Linked DNA regions of Homo sapiens: all the other regions are linked to region 1. The links come from fine-mapping of genetic effects on gene expression. A gene starts in region 1. Each other region holds a variant in brackets. All regions are shown on one strand. Distances are from middle to middle.

The links. PIP is the estimated chance that this variant, and not a neighbour inherited with it, causes the effect.
Region 2: its variant is fine-mapped to the expression of CFAP97D2 in whole blood (INTERVAL, PIP above 0.99).
Region 3: its variant is fine-mapped to the expression of CFAP97D2 in whole blood (TOPMed, PIP above 0.99). The same link has a PIP of 0.9 or more in blood mononuclear cells.
Region 4: its variant is fine-mapped to the expression of CFAP97D2 in whole blood (TOPMed, PIP 0.97).
Region 5: its variant is fine-mapped to the expression of CFAP97D2 in whole blood (TOPMed, PIP 0.98).

Annotation. Positions count from the first base shown.
Region 1 is chr13:114,176,869-114,181,049 of GRCh38, reverse strand. It overlaps CFAP97D2 (CFAP97 domain containing 2), which reads right to left and starts at 1,793. Exons shown (of 4, transcript NM_001395229.1): 1 at 1,630-1,793. The coding sequence starts at 1,719.
Region 2 is chr13:114,236,732-114,240,731 of GRCh38, reverse strand. It overlaps CDC16 (cell division cycle 16), which reads right to left. Exons shown (of 18, transcript NM_001078645.3): 3 at 3,836-3,933; 4 at 1,704-1,742; 5 at 1,242-1,382. Among named protein-coding and RNA genes, the nearest start is that of CDC16, 3.8 kb to the right of the region's middle. The variant G/A (reference allele first, on the strand shown) is at 2,435.
Region 3 is chr13:114,156,378-114,160,574 of GRCh38, reverse strand. No RefSeq gene overlaps it. Among named protein-coding and RNA genes, the nearest start is that of CFAP97D2, 21 kb to the left of the region's middle. The variant C/T (reference allele first, on the strand shown) is at 1,690.
Region 4 is chr13:114,131,045-114,135,241 of GRCh38, reverse strand. It overlaps RASA3 (RAS p21 protein activator 3), which reads left to right and starts at 2,619. Exons shown (of 24, transcript NM_007368.4): 1 at 2,619-2,807. The coding sequence starts at 2,753. RefSeq lists enhancers at 98-598, 428-607, 2,896-3,523, 3,694-4,193 and silencers at 2,314-2,413, 2,444-3,103. The variant T/G (reference allele first, on the strand shown) is at 2,416.
Region 5 is chr13:114,246,909-114,250,908 of GRCh38, reverse strand. CDC16 (cell division cycle 16) reads right to left here. Exons shown (of 18, transcript NM_001078645.3): 11 at 3,905-3,978; 12 at 235-360. It overlaps LOC105370384 (a long non-coding RNA gene), which reads left to right. Exons shown (of 4, transcript XR_007063887.1): 4 at 190-293. Among named protein-coding and RNA genes, the nearest start is that of MIR548AR, 4.4 kb to the right of the region's middle. The variant T/C (reference allele first, on the strand shown) is at 2,263.

The sequences.
Region 1 (4,181 bases):
ACTCCATCCTTGGACCCAGTACCTGTAGGTTTCCGACGTCACAGAGCTGCTAAACTAGCTTATGCCCCCTGGGGCCTCATGGCTCCAGTCAACCTACCAAAGTTCACTATTCAATCATCTCTGCACCTCCCATGACGACAATTTCAACCTTCTTTACCTTACAGTTTCTCAGGTACAGAGCCTGGTTACTCACTTAGGCTGCAGGATTACTGACCAGCTACCTCATGCAGGAGGTATTCTAGTCCCCGGGATACAAAAGCAAACAAGAAAACACCCATGGGGTTTCTATCCTGTAGTATTACTGTAATGCTAACTGATTCATATGTGCTATTGCCTTACCCACTGCTTTCCATCTTTCCCTACTGACAACGGTTGACCAAGTGCTCACTCCACACTCTACGTGCAGAGAACATCGTGGTGGGCAGGACGTGGTCAGCACTGAGTGGGGAAAACAACACAAGTAATGAACATGCCCATCAATCACGTGGCAACAGGAGGTAGCAGGCCCAGGAACCAGAGAGCGGCAGAGGGGAGAGAGAAGACTCCAGGGAGATGATATTGGAACCGGAGTGCCAGGAAGTGAGGTTGAGCTGGGGAAGGAGCCGGGAAGAGTTCCCAGTGGGGACCTCAAAGGAGACAGCAGGTGCAGAGGCCTGACGTGGGGTGGGGGCTGGGTGCTATGGCGCCTTGCAATGAGTGTGACCTGCAGCCCAGGCCACACAATGTCACTTGCAACCCTAGGAGGAAGAGAAATGCTTGACCTGCAGTTCACTCCTTGGGGTAGTCACTTAAGATCATTACAGGGCAGTGTCTCCATTCCCAGAAACAGAAACCCAAACTTCTCCTTCTTAAGAGTATTTCCAGCCTGATCAACACACATGTGGAGACATGATACATGGAACATCGTTCTCTGACGCCTCCACTGAGGTGTGGGCAGAAGACTGTGGGAGGCCACCTCAGATCTGCATGGCGATGCCCTCAAACAATTGTCCACATTTGCATCCAATAAATGGAAATAATAACATATCTTCTAATGGGGACAAGGGTTGGCTTTTAGTCCCCCTTGGAGTCCACTGTTTTGATAGAGAAAAGGATGCCGGGCCGGGCACGGTGGCTCATGCCTGTAATCCCAGCACTTTGGGAGGCTGAGGCAGGTGGATCACCTGAAATCAGGAGTTCAAGACTAGCCTGACCAACATGGCAACACCCCTATGGCAACATCCCTCTCAAAAACAAACAAAAACAAAAACAAAAACAAAAAACAAAAAGAAAGAAAAAGAAAAGGATGCTTCTGGTGTTTTTGTCTTAAGATGCTTTCAAGTCACTTAGGAAAAATTAAGTACTTCTTAAATATATGCTGTGATTAGAAATAGGATGGCCCTAAAACATGGCACATGAAAGCTGTCATCTCAAAAAAAAAAAAGAAAGAAAGAAAGCCGTCAACTATTTAATGAGATTTTTATTGTATGGCAACATAGATGATGAATCTTGTTAGGAAATGTCATTTCAACCATGCTGTCTCCAAAAAGAAAATCACCTCCAGGACTCCAGGGAAAGCAGAGGCATTTCGTGGGCGCTGCTTGGTGCCCGCCCGCTGAGCTGTCAGGGCTGGATTGGGGACTTTCCTACCTTTCTCCTGTGGTCCTGATAGGCTTTCTCCCTTGCATGCCACAGGTACTCACTGGCACAGGGAAAGGTCAGCCGGGGGGCTCCGTGCATCTCAGCAACAAAATCGTCTTGCTCATTCCAGACAGAGGAGCAGCTGGGGCCTGGTGCAGACCTGGAGACGCTGTGTTTGCAGGGTCATGTGACAGTTGTCATGGCGTCCAAGGAGGGGGAAGAACGGGAGCCAGAAGACAGTCTGGGATTCTCAAACAACACGCGAAGAATAATGGTGAAGAGTGGGATCTTCTTCTCCACTGGGGTGTTTTTTTTTTTCAGGAGATCTTGGATAGTTTAGTGTTGCCATTTTGATGCCACTCCTCAGCTACAGAGGAAGGAGATAATCACACATAAGATCCGAGAAATTCTCCAACTAACCTTCCTCCTGCCCACCCTTCCTTTGCTCCTTGCTGTCTTCCTCTCCCCTACCTCTTTCTTCTGCCCTTCCTCCCAACCTCTCCCGCTCTCCAGTTCTTTCCTTTCTTAATTAGTACCTTTCTTTCTGCTTTCCTTATCTCCTTTCTCTTCTATCTTGAATAATTTATATAATTCAGACAATTCCAAAATATTTGTTTGAAGGTTAGGCAGCAGATCCTCCCTAATTTTTCTGATTGACTTGAAGACGAGTTATGCAAAGGCTTAGCTGTTTTAAGCCACCCTCTCTCCATTGCTCTAATCAGGTTGGGATGGGTTTTTCCTGAGACGAATGGAGTGAACATGGCGCTAGGACAGCTGTCGGTCGTTTCATCTTCGTTGAAGCCACGTGCGCAATGTTGGCGACGACACATCAGAGGATTTGGTTAATGAGAAAATAGCATCATCATTTTCATGTCAGAGCTGTGGTCTTCATTACACTACAGCTCTCATCACATGAGACTCCAGTGCAGAATCCATGGATGGGAACTCATTGTTCAGCTTTGCATATGTGAGGAGCAGATACAGGGCATTTCATGAGAAATTTGCTCTGAATATTAGCAGGATGTAGTGGCTGCCAGTCTGAAAGAAAGAATCAGATCTGGAAGTAATAAGATGTGAGTGAAGCCAAAATATGACTTTATTTCCTCCCCTGCCACTCTTGAGGTGGCTGAGGTGCTCTGTACTCAGCTAGCTCTGATGATCTTCAACATTTGGCAGAAGCCTTTATAGGCTGTTAAAATTGTTGATTTAATGAAAATTTTAAAGTTGCCTGGGTTTTTGAAAAGAAAAATTTATTTTAATACATAATTGTTCACAAGTATTAATTTTTAGATAACTTGCATATACTGTAGAATTTAGATGTAAGAATTCCTACCTAGAAATACAACCAGCACTTTAAGACATGAGGCTTAGTTATGATTTCTTAGCCTATACAATCTAAATGTTACATTCAGAGGAATTCTATTAGAATAATCAATTTCCTTTACTCTGATATTGTCATTGGTCAAAAATGACTAGAAAAAGCCTAATATTCAGTAGGTGCTCAACAAATACCTAATATTCAGTAGGTGCTCGACAAATACCTGACAGTCATGCTGATGGGAAGTAGTGCTGTCCATGCTATTGGCTGGTTCCTCAGCTGGGACTCGGAGTCAGACCGTGGGGCTGTCTTCCCTTGTTCCTTCATCCTGTGTGCTGAGAAGCCTGACTGTGCTTGCTGCTGCCATCGGTTGGTGGATGGAGGAGTGAGGGCTGTGCTCTATGTCTGCTCACACTCACATGGATAAAGCGTGCATTGAGGGCAAAGTGGACAAAATATGTGACGTTTGAAGTTTTTGTTTTTACAGTGTGGGGATTCACAGTGGTTTGGATGCACACACTGTTTTTGATGCTCCTGGTCAAATGAAGTGAGCTCAGGTCAGGGAAGGAGTCCCAGCTGCCACCCACGGCTGCCACCCACGGCTGCCACCCACGGCTGTCCACCCACGGCTGTCACTCACAGCTGCCTCCCACAGGGAAGGAGTCCCAGCTGCCACCCACGGCTGCCACCCACACTGTCCACCCACGGCTGTCACCCACAGCTGTCCACCCACAGCTGCCACCCTCAGGGAAGGAGTCCCAGCTGCCACCCAAGGCTGTCACTCACAGCTGCCACCCTCAGGGAAGGAGTCCTAGCTGTCCACCCACAGCTGTCACCCATGCTGTCCACCCATGGCTGTCACCCACAGCTGTCATCCACATGGAAGGAGTCCCAGCTGTCCACCCACGGCTGCCACCCATGCTGTCCACCCACAGCTGTCACCCACAGGGAAGGAGTCCTAGCTGCCACCCACGGCTGCCACCCATGCTGTCCACCCACGGCTGTCACCCACAGCTGTCACCCACAGGGAAGGAGTCCCAGCTGCCACCCACGGCTGTCACTCACAGCTGCCACCCTCAGGGAAGGAGTCCTAGCTGTCCACTCACAGCTGCCACCCATGATGTCCACCCACGGCTGTCACCCACAGCTGTCCACCCACAGCTGTCACCCATGCTGTCCACCCACGGCTGTCACCCACAGCTGTCCACCCACAGCTGTCACCCATGCTGTCCACCCATGGCTG
Region 2 (4,000 bases), 60 kb before region 1:
TCTTTTATGCTTAAAAATAACTATCTAAGGTGAAAAGTCAAGTAATAAACTTCTACCAAAAATATAAATAAATGGGCCAGGTGCAGTGGCTCATGACTGTAATCCCAACACTTTGGGAAACTAAGGCAGGAGGATCACTTGAGCCCAGGAGTTTGAGACCATCCTGGGCAACACAGTGAGACCCTGTCTCTACAAAACATTTTTTAAAAAATTTAGCCAACTGTGCCGGGCACAGTGGCTCACACCTGTAATCCCAGCACTTTGGGAGGCCGAGGTGGGCAAACCACGAGGTCAGGAGATCGAGACCATCCTGGCTAACATGGTGAAACCCCGTCTCTACTAAAATAGCAAAAAATTAGCCGGGCATGGTGGCGGGCGCCTGTAGTCCCAGCTACTCGGGAGGCTGAGGTGGGAGAATCACTTGAGCTTGGGAGGTTGAGGCTGCAGTGAGCTGTGATTGTGCCACTGCACTCCAGCCTGGACAACAAAGCAAAGACCCTGTCTTAATTTAAAAAAAAAAGATGTGGGAAGAAAGAGAAATTGGTAGGTCAGGTAAGGCTTACAGGGATTCTTTCTGAATAATAAAAATATTCTAAAATTGACCATGGTGAGGTTTGCAAAGCTCTGTGAATACACTAAAAGGAATCAAACCATACAGTTTAAATGGGGGAACTGCATGGCATATAAATTATACCTCAATAAGTTTTTATTTTTTTTTTTAAATCCAGATTAGTGATCTGTAAATGTCACTTAATAAGTTACTATATGATGTCTGCCAGCAAGGAATGTGCAATTTCATGGAGATATGAAGTATACAAACTGAAATATACACAATTACATAGCAATGTACTTTGAAGCAAACAGAACACAAAACCATTTCCTGGAAAGAAACAATGTACGCTAATCAAAGTTTCTTGGTGTAGGTCCAAAACACTGCTGAAACACAGAAAGGAGAAGAAAAATTATTCCACTTTTAGGGAGTAGCTTAAGGCATCAAATATGAGAAGGAAGTTTCAAGCCAGCCTATTTTGGATGCAGGCATCTGCGGATACAATTACAGCTTGCAACTAAGGGCTCAGAAATGTCTCAGAATCTTTTTTGGTTTTGGTGGGCAAATTAAATAAATTGGCAACCACAATTGTTTTAATATAGTAATAAGTAAAAGAAGATAATGTGTTTCTGCCACGTAATGAGGGCAATTCTCGCCGCCGTTACTGAGCTGTGCTCACAGTACTACTTACTGAAGACTGTGACATTTCCCAGTCGCTGGAAGGATCTTTGAAGCCACTTTCGTCCTTCAAGTATTTTTCAAATAATCTTTTATTGATGGGCTCTTCCATGTCAAGAACATCAAGGGCCTGCTGGTGCTCTTTTGCAGCATACTACGTGGAAAACAGAAGTGCCGCTCATCACTCACGACTTCTAACACGAAACACATGATCCGAATTTTTAAAGGATAACATATACTATGCCCATTATTTAAATGTGAAATGTCTAAAGTAGAATTTTCTTCATGCATGTCAGCATGTGGTAAACGAAGAATCAGTATTTTATAGCAAACATGACTAAGGAAAGGAACACTTCCTCATGAAATACTTTACTAACCTGCTAAGCTCCATCACTAAAATTCTCACACATATTTAAGAGATGCATAACACTCATTTTATTCAACCAAATAAAAATGAAATTATGAGCATACTTACATGGCACCTAGCTGCAAGGTAACGACATGCTTCATACAACTAGGAAAGAAATTAATTTGTTTAAGTAGTGGTCAAAATAATATGTATCTTCACTTTCAAAGAAAGCCATAAGCATAAAATAGAACTAATTTCATAATTTCTCCTTTTACTCTTGCAGTTAAAAAAAAAATCCAGTCCTGTTAAACCATATTTATTATGAACCTACTGTTTACTAGGCACCAAGGATTCAAAAGCAGTAAGGCCCTGCCCCAGGAGGTTACAGTAGGGGAGATGTGAACTAAGCACAACAGGTAAGCATGACGAAACGGGGCAACAGAAAGCATCAACCAGGTGGAGAAGTAAACATCTGCAGGAGAGCGAGTAAGTGAGGCAGCGAGTAAGTGGTCAGGCAGAGGAGTGGAGCACTGGGTAGCTCTTCAAGCACTGAGTGTGAATAACTGCTGGGGGTCCAAGGAGATCGCAGCAGCTCCACTTCAGGCACTGAGTGTGAATAACTGCTGGGCGTCCGAGGAGATCGCAGCAGCTCCACTTCAGGCCCTGAGTGTGAATAACTGCTGGGCGTCCGAGGAGCTCGCAGCAGCTCCACTTCAGGCCCTGAGTGTGAATAACTGCTGGGCGTCCGAGGAGCTCGCAGCAGCTCCACTTCAGGCACTGAGTGTGAATAACTGCTGGGCATCCGAGGAGATCGCAGCAGCTCCACTTCAGGCCCTGAGTGTGAATAACTGCTGGGC[G/A]TCCGAGGAGCTCACAGCAGCTCCACTTCAGGCACTGAGTGTGAATAACTGCTGGGCGTCCGAGGAGATCGCAGCAGCTCCACTTCAGGCCCTCAGTGTGAATAACTGCTGGGCGTCCGAGGAGCTCACAGCAGCTCCACTTCAGGCACTGAGTGTGAATAACTGCTGGGCGTCCAAGGAGATCGCAGCAGCTCCACTTCAGGCCCTGAGTGTGAATAACTGCTGGGTGTCCAAGGAGCTCACAGCAGCACCACGTGACTGGAGCACGTGCTCCAGGTATTGATGGTGGTGGATTAGACGCAGAGTGGAGAGAAAACAAGGAGGGCCTCACAGACCTACTGATGCATCTGACTTTATCCTGCAGCTAATGGGAAGTCACTGAATGACTTTGTGGGAATATAACCACATCCGTGTTTTAAAGACTACTCACTCCTGTAATAGTTCACAAGATGAACTTGTGACAGGGAAGATAAGAAGAGAGAAACTGTTACTGGGGAAAAGAGACAAGAAGAGAGGCTGTAACAGAACAGACAAAAAAATCAAAGGCCTGACACGTACGAGTGGGGAGGAAGAGGAATATCCATGATTCCAGAGCTGTTTAGAAAACAGTCTTCAGAATTTAGAGACTAGATGGGAGATGGGGGAAAAAGAAGGTGACAGATTAGGTATAAGACATTTTCCCTTCACTTTCACTAAAAAAAAACTGGGCCTACTGTGATGACTCACATCTATAATCCCAGCACTTTGGGAGACCAAGGCGGGAGGACTGCTTGAGACCAGGAGTTCAAGACTAGCCTGGGCAACATAGTGAGGCTCTGTCTCTACCAAAAAAATTTAAAAATTAGCTGGGTGTGGTGGCATGCACCTGTAGTCCCAGCTATTAGGGAGGCTGAGGCAGAAGGATCACTTGAACTCAGGAGTCTGAGGTTATAGTGAGCCACGATCATCCCACTGCACTCCTGGGTGACACAGAGAGACCTCAAAAAAACAAAAACAAAGAAAAATTGCATCAAGTTAAATAATTTCAACAGAAATGGAATATACACCTAAAACCCTAATGACTTTTTTTTTTTTTGAGACAGAGTCTTGCTCTGTTGTCCAGGCTGGAGTGCAATGCACGAACTCAGCTCACTGCAACCTCCACCTCCCAGGTTCAAGTAATTCTCTGCCTCAGCCTCCCGAGTAGCTGGGATTACAGGCGCCTGCCACCACGTCCGGCTAATTTTTGTATTTTTAGCGGAGATGGGGTTTCACCATCTTGGTCTTGAGCTCCTGACCTCATGATCCACCTGCCTTGGCTTTCCAAAGCGCTGGGATTACAGGTGTAAGCCACCGCGCCCGGCCACTAATGACATTTTTTTTAAAGCTCTGAAGAGCTTTAAAGTTCATACCATCACTTACTTTGTCCAGTTTTCGTGACCGAAGTGCATGGGCGGCTCTGTGATATTGTGCTGTCAGGTAAAGACACTGAGCCAACCAATAGATGTCCTGGGGTTCTTCTGGAGGGAAAAATTCACATAAGTGGTCAGAGGTACAAGGTGAAATAGAAAACGAATTTTAAGATTA
Region 3 (4,197 bases), 20 kb after region 1:
ATGTGCAGAAACTGCAAGCATTCCTATACACCAATAATAGACAAGCAGAGAGCCAAATCATGAATGAATTTCCATTCACAATTGCTGCGAAGACAATAAAATACCTAGGAATACAGCTAACAAGGGAAGTGAATGACCTCTTCAAGGAGAACTACAAACCACTGTTCAAGGAAATCAGAGAGGACACAAACAAATGGAAACACACTGCATGGTCATGAACAGGAAGAATCAATGTTGTGAAAATGGCCATATTGCCTACAGTAATTTATAGATTCAATGCAATTCCCTTTAAACTACCATTGACGTTCTTCACAGAATTAGAAAAAACTACTTTAAAATTCATATGGGACCAAAAAAGAGCCGATATAGCCAAGACAATCCTAAGGAAAAAGAACGAAGCTGGATGCTTCAGTTACCTGACCTCAGACAAGGCTGCAGTAACCAAAACAGCATGGCACTGGCACAAAAACAGACACATAGACCAATGGAACAGAATAAAGAACTCAGAACTAAGACCACACATCTTCAGCCATCTGATCTTTGACAAACTTGACTAAAACATGCAATGGGGAAAGGATTTCCTGTCTAATAAATGGTGCCAGGAAAACTGGCTAGCCACATCCAGAAAATTGAAACTGGACCCCTTTCTTACACCTTATATTAAAATCAATTCAAGATGGATTAAAGACTTAAATGTAAAACTCCAAACTATAAAAACCCTAGAAGAAAATCTCAGCAATACCATTCAGGACACAGTCACGGGCAAATATTTCATGATGAAATCACCAAAAGCAATTGTAACAAAAGCAAAAATTGACAAATGGGACCTAATTAAACTAAAGAGCTTCTGCACAGCAAAAGAAACTGTCATCAGAGTGAACAGGCAACCTACAGAATGGGAGAAAATTTTTGCAAACTCTCCATCTGACAGAGGTCTAATATCCAGAATCTACAAGGAACTTAAACAAATTTATAAGAAAAAAACCCAACAACCTTGTTGTTAAAAAGTTGGCAAAGGACATGAACAGACACTTCTCAAAAGAAGACATACATGTGGCCAACAAGCATAGGAGAAACAGCTCAACATCGCTGATCATTAGAGAAATGCAAATCAAAACCACAATGAGAAACCATCTCACGCCAGCCAGAATGGAGATTATTAAAAACTCAAGAAACAACGGATGCTGGTGAGGCTGTAGAGAAATAGAAATGCTTTTACACTGTTGGTGGGAGTGTAAATTAGTTCAACCATTGTGGAAGACAGTGTGGTGATTCCTCAAAGATCTGGAACCAGAAATACCATTTGGCTCAGCAATCTCATTACTGGGTGTATACCCAAAGGATTATAAATCATTCTATTATAAAGATACACGTATGCGTATGTTCATTGTAGCATTATTCACAATAGCAAAGACATGGAATCAACCCAAATGCCCATCAATGATAGACTGGACAAAGAAAACGTGGCACATATACCCCATGGAATACTACGCAGCCATAAAAAGGAATGCGATCATGTCTTTGCAGGGACATGGATGGAGCTGGAAGCCGTTATCCTCTGCAAACTAACACAGGAACAGAAAACCAAACACTGCGTGTTCTCACTTATAAGTGAGAGCTGAACAATGAGAACACATGGACACAGGGAGGGGAACAACACACACCGGGGCCTGTCGTGGGGTTGGGGGG[C/T]GGGAGAGCATCAGGAAAAATAAGATAATGTATGCTGGACTTAATATCTAGGTGAAGGGTTGATCTGTGCAGCAAATCACCATGGCACACGTTTACCTATGCAACAAGGCTGCACGTCCTGCACATGTATCCCAGAACTTAAAATAAAATAAAATGAAATTAAAGAAAAAAAAAGATGATCTGCTACATAATGCCTTTCACAAGAATGCGACCAGGGATGAATTTACCCCCTGTGCTCAGCGTGACTGAAGTTCTTAGGAGAGCAATAGTCTAATGTTCACCTCCACATTTTACAGACGTTGAGAACACCACGCACGGGGTCTTTGGAAGTGCTGGAATGCCCCCAGATGTCTAAGCACTCTGTCCTGTCCTGAACTCCCGCTAAGTGGAGGGCAGTTGCTGCTGGGCACCCTGAATGCAGGGCCTCCCTCCTCTTCAGGCCCAGTTGGATTGAAACAAAGTCCAAGGAGAAACGTGTAGCCCCAAAGAGAACAGGAATAGAGGTGCTGGCAGATGAGAATGGCCAATGATTTCCAAAGGTGGAAGGGGATGCAAGGGTGTGGGCGGTGGGGCAGGGTGAAGGCGCCCAGCCAGAGATGCTCAGAGATCAATGGTGGAGGCCAGGGTCATCTTGCTGAGGGATCCCAGAGTGGCACTGAGCTGGGAGGTCAAAGGGAGATAGATGTGGGGCTGAAAACGGGGTGGGGGCTGGTAATTCCAGTTGCCTGTGAACAAGTGCCTGGCAGTAGTCACCTCTGCAACCCGTGCCTGCGTCTGTATCCCGCCAAGAAGCCAGCAGGTTCCCAGGCAGCGTCAGAAGATTCTTATTCACGGCCCTGGAGTCAGCATCCTGGGTGTGGCCACAGCTTGCAGCCTGGGTCTAGGGCCCCAGGGTAAAATCTTTTTTTTTTTTAATTATACTTTAAGTTTTAGGGTACATGTGCACAACGTGCAGGTTTGTTACATATGTATACATGTGCCATGTTGGTGTGCTGCACCCATTAACTCGTCATTTACATTAGGTATATCTCCTAATGCTATCCCTCCCCCCAACCCCACAACAGGCCCCGTGTGTGATGTTCCCCTTCCTGTGTCCATGTGTTCTCATTGTTCAATTCCCACCTATGAGTGAGAACATGCAGTGTTTGGTTTTTTGTCCTTGCGATAGTTTGCTGAGAATGATGGTTTCCAGCTTCATCCATGTCCCTACAAAGGACATGCACTCATCATTTTTTCATGGCTGCACAGTATTCCATGGTGTATATGTGCCTTATTCTAGTGTGGATTGCAGTGTTTCGGGGGAAGGGAGAGATGCTAGCCTGCTGCCTGCTCCTCACCCATCTGTCCTAAATAAAGCACAGCCACGCCCCGTCTGTGGATTCCCTCCCAGCTCACCTTTCCACCCCCAGCTACCTTTCCACCCCTAGCTCACCTTTCCACCTGGAGGACCCCACGGAAAACCCACAGTATCCCATCTAAATGAGCCACTGGTTCTTAGACACAGGTGAGCAGGCTTCTCCAGACTTTCCATAGAAACCAGCGACAGAGGGGGAGGATCCACAAAGGTGACAGCTGGCTGGGCGTGGTGGCTCATGCCTGTAATCCCAGCACTTTGGGAGGCCGAGGTGGGTGGATTGAGAGTTCGGGAGTTCACGACCAGCCTGGCCAACATGGAGAAACCCCGTCTCTACTAAAAATACAAAATTAGCCGGGCATGGTGGTGCATGCCTGTAATCCCAGCTACTCGGGAGGCTGAGGCAGGAGAATCGCTTGAACCCGGGAGGCGGAGGTTGCGGTGAGCTGAGACCGCACCATTGCACTCCAGCCTGGGCACTCCAGCCTGGGCAACAAGAGTGAAACTCCGTCTCAAAAAAAAAAAAAAAAAGGTGACAGCTGACCTCAGAGAAAACAGCTAAGTGGGAAAACAAAAAATGAAGTTAAAGATCTAATTACTGTCCTCAGAATATTCAAGAAAATACGCATATAGGTAACATAAGAACAGAATACTAGTTAAGAACAGGCAGAGAGCAGGAAAGATGTTTAAAATATGATTTCTGAACTGAAAATCCCACGAAAGAGATGGACTTCAGGGTCCAGTGAGGTTTCCAGAATATGCCTCAAAAAGACAGATGGAGAATTCTCAAGGAGAGATTAAAGTCCTGGACCATGCGCTGAGGAAATGCCAGGCGAATAGGCTTCAGAGAAGAGAAGGGAGGCAGGACGCTTCCTCCACAGAGGAAACTTTCCGGAGCAGAAGGACAGGGCAGAGGCTGGTGGGGAGGTGGGGGCAAGCAAGGAGACCCAGGACAGGGGACCGAAAGGACACTTCCTCTCCTCTTCTGGGGAGAAAAACAATCAAAAGGAGAAAGAGAAACAGAAACACATTCCAGTTACCTTGACACCAGGACTGGGAAGGGCGAGGGTGAAGGTCGGGGAGCCCAGAGGAGGTGCACACCCCACGCCCAGCACCCACCCCATCCACGCCCAGCACCCACCCTTCCCCACCCC
Region 4 (4,197 bases), 46 kb after region 1:
TCTCTTCTTCCCAGTCAGGGTCCAGAGCTTGGAACAGCACCTTCCGAGGCCGAGCACCCGAACCTGGAACAACACCTTCTGAGGCCAAGCACCTGGCCTTCTCTGGAGCTCTGCCTTCTACACGGTTAAGTCCTGGCCCTGATCCAGTGTTTTGGTTTTCCTCTGGTCACAGGAGATGAGTGTCTTATGTGGCACTGAGGAGGCCCGTTAGCGTGCCACCCTTTTGTTTCAGGTGGTGATCTTTTCATTATCTTGCCCTCAACACGAGCCACCTGATTCCATAGTCCATGTATCTGTGACTTTCCCGAACTCTCCAGCACCCGAGATCCTGCCGCTGCCAGTGCATTTCCTTCCAAGGGGCTCCCGTCCTGGCTGCCACTGCTGCAGTCTGGAGATTCACTCCTGACCCCAGCTGTCGCCTGGAAACAAACACCAAAGCGAGATCCGCGTTGAGTTTATCAGCAGGCCTGTGAGGGTGGAGGGATGGCAGAGAAGCAGCTTTGTGGCTGGGCTGCCACAGAGGACTCCACTGGTCCTCGGAGAAACACAGGAGCCGGCTTGCTTCCAGTGGCTCCAAACGGAAGCATAGTCTCCGTCGTAAAGCAGGGGTGTGGATGGCGTCCACAGCACCCACTGCAGACGCCACCCAGGGCCAGCGCTAGACGCAGAGGCTCTGGGTTGGAACCAGGGGTGCCGCCTTAACCTCCTGTTCTGCCCCAGTGAGCACCAGGCTTGCAAGGGCTGAGGATGAGAGAGGCCCCTGTGGCTGCAGGCTCCCAGCAGTCAGGGGAAGAAAGGCCATTCATTCTTTCAACGCATGGAACTGCTTTTTAGGAAGTGAAGGTAAGCAGTGGAAAAAAATAGGCCTCTATCTTCATGAAGCTCCTGTTCCTCTCCATGCAGTGTGTGTGTGTTTGTGTATGTTCACGTAGGTGTGTGTATGTATGTTTAGTGTGTATGTCTGTGCATGTGTATGGGTAGTATATGTGTGTGCTGTCTGTGTTGTGTGTATATGAACATATGTGTTCATGTGTATATGTGGTGTGTGTATGTAGGGTGTGTGTATATGTGTGTATATGTATGTGTGTACACGTGTGTAGTATGTGTGTGGTGTCTGTGTGTGGTGTCTATGTGTATGTATATGTATATGTAGTGTATGTGTGGTATATGTATGTGTGTATATATGTGTAGGGTGTGTGTGTGGCACTGGGTGCAATGAAGTTTTGCAACATAGAGGAGGGAGTGTAGTCTCAGTTCATATACACACCTACAGTTCATACACACACACAAACATACTCCTCAGAGAGGAGGTCAGGGAGGAGGAGACCTCGAGACAGAAGAAAGGGAGGTAAGGGTGGTACCTGCCCATGCTGGGGTCTGCAGGGGGACTGGGGGGGGACCTGCCCATGCCGGGGTCTGCAGGGGGACTTGGGGGGGGACCTGCCCATGCTGGGGTCTGCAAGGGGACTTGGGGGGGGACCTGCCCATGCCGGGGTCTGCAGGGGGACTTGGGGGGGGGACCTGCTCATGCCGGGGTCTGCAGGGGGACTGGGGGGGGACCTGCTCATGCCGGGGTCTGCAGGGGGACTGGGGGGGGACCTGCCCATGCCGGGGTCTGCAGGGGAACTGGGGGGGGACCTGCCCATGCCGGGGTCTGCAGGGGGACTTGGGGGGGGGACCTGCCCATGCCGGGGTCTGCAGGGGGACTGGGGGGGGACCTGCCCATGCCGGGGTCTGCAGGGGACTGGGGGGGGACCTGCCCATGCTGGGGTCTGCAGGGGGACTTGGGGGGGGGACCTGCTCATGCTGGGGTCTGCAGGGGGACTGGGGGGGGACCTGCTCATGCTGGGGTCTGCAGGGGGACTGGGTGGGGGAGACCTGCCGGTGCCGGGGTCTGCAGGGGGACTGGGGGGGGACCTGCCCGTGCCGGGGTCTGCAGGGGGACTGGGGGGGGACCTGCCCATGCCGGGGTCTGCAGGGGGACTGGGGGGGACCTGCCCATGCCGGGGTCTGCAGGGGGACTGGGGGGGGAGACCTGCCCATGCCGGGGTCTGCAGGGGGACTGGGGGGGGGAGACCTGCCCATGCCGGGGTCTGCAGGGGGACTGGGGGGGGGGAGACCTGCCCATGCTGGGGTCTGCAGGGGGACTTGGGGGGGGGACCTGCCCATGCCGGAGGTCTGGGGTGGGGGGCTGTGTGTGCGTGTATGTGTCCCCGCCCCCCTCGTGCGTCTGCAGCAGGTGCCTTCGGATCGCATCTCAGGAGCTGGGGCTGGGCGCGGGATTCCTCCCCTGCCAGATCGTTGTACGTGAACTTCTCTTGGCAAAGTTCGTCCGCGAGTCAATCGCTCAGCCTCGCTCAGCGGGCCCGGGCCGCGCCGGCGACCTTCCTTCGTCTCTTCCGCCAGGCAGCCCGC[T/G]GGGGTCCCTTCCGCTCAGCGGCCAATCCGCGGGGCGGGGGCGGGGGCCGAGGCCTCGGGGGAAGCCGATCCCTGCGCCCCCCGGGTCTCCGCCACCCGCCAGCGCCGTCCCTGCCAACCCCGCCCCTGCAGGGCCCGGGCCAGTTGGGAGCAGGGGCCGGGCCGCGGGCGGAGCCTCCCGGTCCCCGCCCTCGCCCTCGGCCAACTGGCGGTCTTGCAGGCGGGCGGACCCTCGGCCGCGCTCGGGGCTCCGGCGCCGCCGCTCCTCCTGCTCGGCCTGAGCTGCCCGGGCTCGGCGCGCGCTTGGGGCGAGGCTCGGCGGGCGCGGACGCGCAGCATGGCGGTGGAGGACGAGGGGCTCCGGGTCTTCCAGAGCGTGAAGATCAAGATCGGTGAGTGTCCGCCGGCAGCCACGCGTCCGACCCCCCGGCCCGACCCTGTCCTCTCCCGCGCCCGCCTCCCCTCCGCAGATCCTTGCTGGGGACCCCGGCGGAGACGCCCTCCAGGCGCGGCGCGCTCCCCGGAGAACGGCTGGTCCGGCTCCGCGGCCCCTCCCCACCTCCCCGCCTCCCCGGGCCTCGGGCTGGGTCGAGTCGGCTCCGGGGTAACGCGGCTCCCTGCGCCTCCTCTGCGCCCGGAGCGGCCCCGGTCCCTGGTAGCGGCGGAGGAGGTGGGGTCCCTGCGCCGAGGGACGTCTGTCCGCGTGTGCGCCCGAGCGTGTGCCCCGCGTGTTTGCAGGAGTGCGCGCGCCTGAGGCTGTCTGGGCGCCTGCACTTCAGGTGTCAAATCCACTGACGTCGGGGTCTCGGCATCTCCCTTTCTCCGCTGCGCCCAGAAACTTCCTTTCCGGGGAATGTGGAGGCTCCTTCACGCTTCTCCCCAGGGGCGTGAGGCCCCGGCGCGCTGCTGCTGCTGTGCGCGCGCGTCTGTGCCTGCGTGCGCGCGTGTTTGTGTGTGCTTGTGTTTGTGTGTCCATGTGTGGGCGGTGTGTGTGCGCGTGCGTTTGTGGGTGCATGTGTGGGTGCGTATTTGTGTGTGGATGCATGTGTGCGCGCGTGTGTATTTGTGTGTGGGCGCGTGTGTGTGCGCGCGTTTGTGTGTGTGCATGTGTGCGTGTGTGCTGGTGGGGCGTTCTGGCTGAGGGCTCCCGCGGGGCGGGGAGACCCCGGACCCATCGGCACCACGTCCCTTTCCACTGAGAAGTGGCGGGCGAGCTGGTGGCGACCAGGGCCTGCGAGGCTGCGGTTTTTCTCTGGGCTTCAGCAGCTTCTGAAGTGGGCTCCCGGAGGCGTTTCCGGAGAGGAGGCTGTGTCTGGACTTCTGGTTTATCTGGAGGGATCTGCTTTTCCCTGGTTGTTTTATCTTGGGAGAGTGATGTGGAAGTCCTCCCCCTCCCCCAGAGCAAGACCGTTTCCTGGAGTGACTGTTCCATATTCATGCCATGAGTGTGCTGGACCACAGCGCGGTTCAGGCTGGAGAGGCTTCCAGGGCCTGCAGTGTCGCGGTCCCCACGGTCCTTCTCCCCCACTGAGCCGCACTTCGCAGCCGGCCTCTTCCCGTGTGAAGAGGCCTCCGGGAACGGGCTGAGTGTCAGTTGTTGATGACATTTGATGCTGCCGGAGGCATTCCAGCTCCCCTAAACCAGCGGGCTGTTTCCTGTCGGCTTTATTTTGGTTTGCGGATCATCGCTGAGACACTGTCTTGATATTTGGCCCAGAAGCGCTGCAGCTAGGATGTGGCAGCACTTCCGCTTTGAGTAGTCCAGAGAGGAGGGATTTCTTT
Region 5 (4,000 bases), 70 kb before region 1:
AATTTCCTGGTTGCTTCTTGCACTGGTTGGAATCAACTGCTAGGCAAATGCATACACCAGCTTCTCTCCCCTCCACTTTCATAGTTATTTTACAATCACAAGCAACTAGATTAAAAGGCAAGTAAAATGTTTGTGTTTAGTTTAGCAACCAAATAGCAGTAATAGTAATAGAAATTTCATTTCTATTAGGAAAAACATCCCTTCATGGAGTTTGATGAGTTTGCTCTGCCGTACCCTTTCATCAGCTGTGCTGCTGTGAAGTAAGCAGCCATCGCTTGGTCGTGCTCACTCTCCACCGCAAATGAATGTCCATAGGCTATCCATGCAGGTCCATAGGTTTTCTCAAGTGTTGTGGCTTTGCTAAAACAAAAGAGTTAATTTAAGTCATATAGTATTTATTCTTTTTTTTTTTTTTTTGAGACAAAGTCTCACTTTGTCGCTCAGGCTGGAGTGCAGTGGTGCGATCTCGGCTCTCTGCAGCCTCCGCCTCCAGATACCAAGCAATTCTCCTACCTCAACCTCCCGAGTAGCTGGGATTACAGGCACCCGCCACCATGCCCGGCTAATTTTGTATTCACAGTAGAGATGGGGTTTCACCATGTCGGTCAGGCTGGTCTTGAACTCCTGACCTCAGGTGCTCCACCCACCTTGGCCTCCCAAAGTGCTGGGATTACAGGCGTGAGCCACTGCGCCCAGCCTATTTATTATTTTTTATTTTTAGAGACAGAGTTTTGCTCTGTCGCTGGAGGCTGGAATGCAGTGGTATGATCATAGCTCACTGCAGCCTCAAAATCCTGGGCTCAAGTAATCCTTCTGCCTCAGGCTCTTGAGTCACTGAGATTACAGGCACGAGCCACTGTGCCCAGCTAGTATTTATTCTTGAATTGTTAATTTTATATAAGGAGATGGCCTCAAAAACATTAACATCCATTTAGTAAACAAGCTGTCACCACATTAAACACTAATGTAACATTTGTGTTGATTCATTTGAACTAAAACTGTTTAATAGTATAGCAAAATTTTAAGAAATTTGAGGAGATCCACAGCTTTTTATGCACTGTAGCAAAACCCATTAGCATTCTAAATAGAACTTACAGATATTACTTAATCCAGGAGCTCCATTTTGTAACCTAGTAGATACATCCTCTCATCCTAATAACTTGCAAGATAAATTCATTTATATTTTAAAGACAGGTATACCAAGGCTTGAGGGATTAGGCGATATCCTATAGATGATGGTCAACAGATATACCCTGGTTACAGGGACTGGACTCATATATATCAGTGAATAATTGTATACAGTGAACACTGTATAATTAACCCACAAGGAATAAAGAGAACATATCACAAAACGTGGAAGACATAGGGGGTGATACCCTACTTCCTTGTATTTTAAGTTTTCTTTTATCCAAATGTTACCTGTTTCATGTAGAGCAGGGGTCCCAACCCCTGGGCCACAGACTGGTATCAGTCCCTGGCCTATTAGGAACCAGGCGGCACAGCAGGAGGTGAGTGGCAGGCAGGTGAGTAAAGCTTCATATGTCAAGAAAGAACTTGCCATTTGAAAAAAAAAAAAGCTTAATCTGTATTTACAGCCACTCCCCTTCACTTGCATTTCCGCCTGAGCTCTGCCTCCTGTCAGATCAGAGGCATTAGGTTCTCGTAAGTGCGCAAACCCTATTGTTAACTGCACATGTGAGGGATCTAGGTGGCGCACTCCTTACGAGAATCTAATGCCTGATGACCTGTCGCTGTCTCCCATCTCTCCCAGATGGGACCATCTAGTTGCAGGAAAACAAGCTCAGGGCTCCCACTGATTCTTCATTATAGTGAGTTGTATAATTATTTCATTATATGCTACAATGTAATAATAATAGAAAAAAGCACACGATAAATGTAATGCGCTTGAATCATCAAGAAACCAGTCCCCCCACCCTGGGAGGGGGGGCTTCTACAAAATGGTCCCTGGTGCCAAAAATGTTGGGGACCACTGATAAGAGTCCATCACTGAATTGCACGCTAGATCAAAGCAGCATAGCTCAAAATAACTTTTACAATACTAATCATCTTTCTATGTAGAAGTTCTTCTAAAATGCTGAACATACAACCAACCAGGGAACATTCTAGTTTCTTCCTAGTACAGGGTACTTTCGTGGCATCAGTCTTCCTAACAATCCTGCTATATGAGTATGACATCTCCCCCACCCCCACTCCCTTTTATTTTTTTTGAGACAGAGTCTCACTCTGTCGGCGAGGCTGGAG[T/C]GCAGTAGTGCAATCTCAGCTCACTACAACCTCCACCTCCTGGACTCAAACAATTCTCCTCCCTCAGCCTCCCAAGTAGCGGGGATTACAGGTGCATGCCACCATGTCCAGCTGATTTTTTTATTTTTAGTAGAGACAGACTTTCACCATGTTGGCCAGGCTGGTCTCGAACTCCTGACCTAAGGTAATCTGCCTGTCTCGGCCTCCCAAAGTGTTGGGATTACAGGCGTGAGCCACCACGCCTGGCTGACATCCCCATTTTTAAAGAAAGAGAGAGCAGGAGAAATTAACTTTCCCAAGGAATTTCAGTTGGTAAGTCACAGAACTTGGATTAGAATTCAAATTTGACTCCAAAGTTTATGCTGTTTCCGTTAGAGACCAATTCTGTTTTATTTGCACGGAAGAAACCACAGAAATTAGAACATTTACAGAGTTTAAGTAATTAATTCTTCACATACTTGACATTTTTCTAAACTTGAATAATACTGGTTAAATAGCTTCACTAGGCTGCATGGCTTTCCTTAAGTTAAAACCACAGCAAATCATTACATGAATCAGTTCACCCTGCTAAGAATTCTGTTTTATAGTCACATTTAGTGACCCCAATTTTACATAAAGTTTTGTGTAATTTCACAACTATTAATAAAAGAAATCCTAAAAGTAAAAGGTTAACAGGATCTCTGTAAGCGAAAGAGAGAAACTTTCAAACTACATTATTCTCTATTGTTTCATATTTATTCTCATTTATTAATTATTATTATTATTTTTTTGAGACAGAGTTTTGCTCTTGTCACCCAGACTGGAGTGCAATGGTGCGATATCAGCTCACTGCAACCTCCACTTTCCAGGTTCAAGCGATTCTCCTGTCTCAGCCTCCCGAGTAGCTGGGATGCAGATGCCCACTACTATATCTGGCTAATTTTTTGTATTTTTAGTAGACAGAGTTTCACCATGTTAGTCAGGCTGGTCTTGAACTCCTGACCTCAGGTGATCCACCTGCATTGACCTCCCAAAGTGCTGGCATAACAGGTGTGAGCCACCATGCCTGGCCATTTATTCTCATTAATAAATAAAATATGTAGGTTCCCTGAGAATAGGGTCTACATCACTGATTTTTTTTTTCTCTCTCTCCCCATGGCATCTTATAAAGAACAAACCACTTGAAGAAAACATTTATTCAGCCAGGCATGGTGGCTCATGCCTGTCATCTCAACACTTTCGGAGGCCGAAGCAAGAGGACTGCTTGAGGCCAGGAGTTCAAGACCAGCCTAGGCAACACAGTGAGATTCGTCTCTACTAAAAAAAAAAAAAAATGTTTAAATCAGCTAGGCATGGTGGTGCCTGTAGTCCCAGCTACTCGGGAGGCTGAGCAAGAGGATCATTTGAGTTTGAGGTGAGCTATTATTGCACCACTGCACTCTAGTCTGGGCAACAGAGTGAGAACCCTCGAGAGAGAGGGGAGGGGAGGTGAGAAGGAAAAGAAAAGGCAAGAAAGAAAGAGAGAAAGAAAAGAAAGGAAGAAAAAAAAAAACATTTATTCTTTCACATTGCTTTTAAAGTACTCACTAATTACTACTTGAAAGCTTATGAGCAAGACATCAATTCTACAGGTTAACTAGAGAGGAAAAAAATAAATTCATACCTGAGATATCTTCTGGCATGTTCATTTTTATGACCGACCATGAGATAGTAACATCCCACTGCAAACCAAGACACCTAAAAAGTTCAAAATTTACCA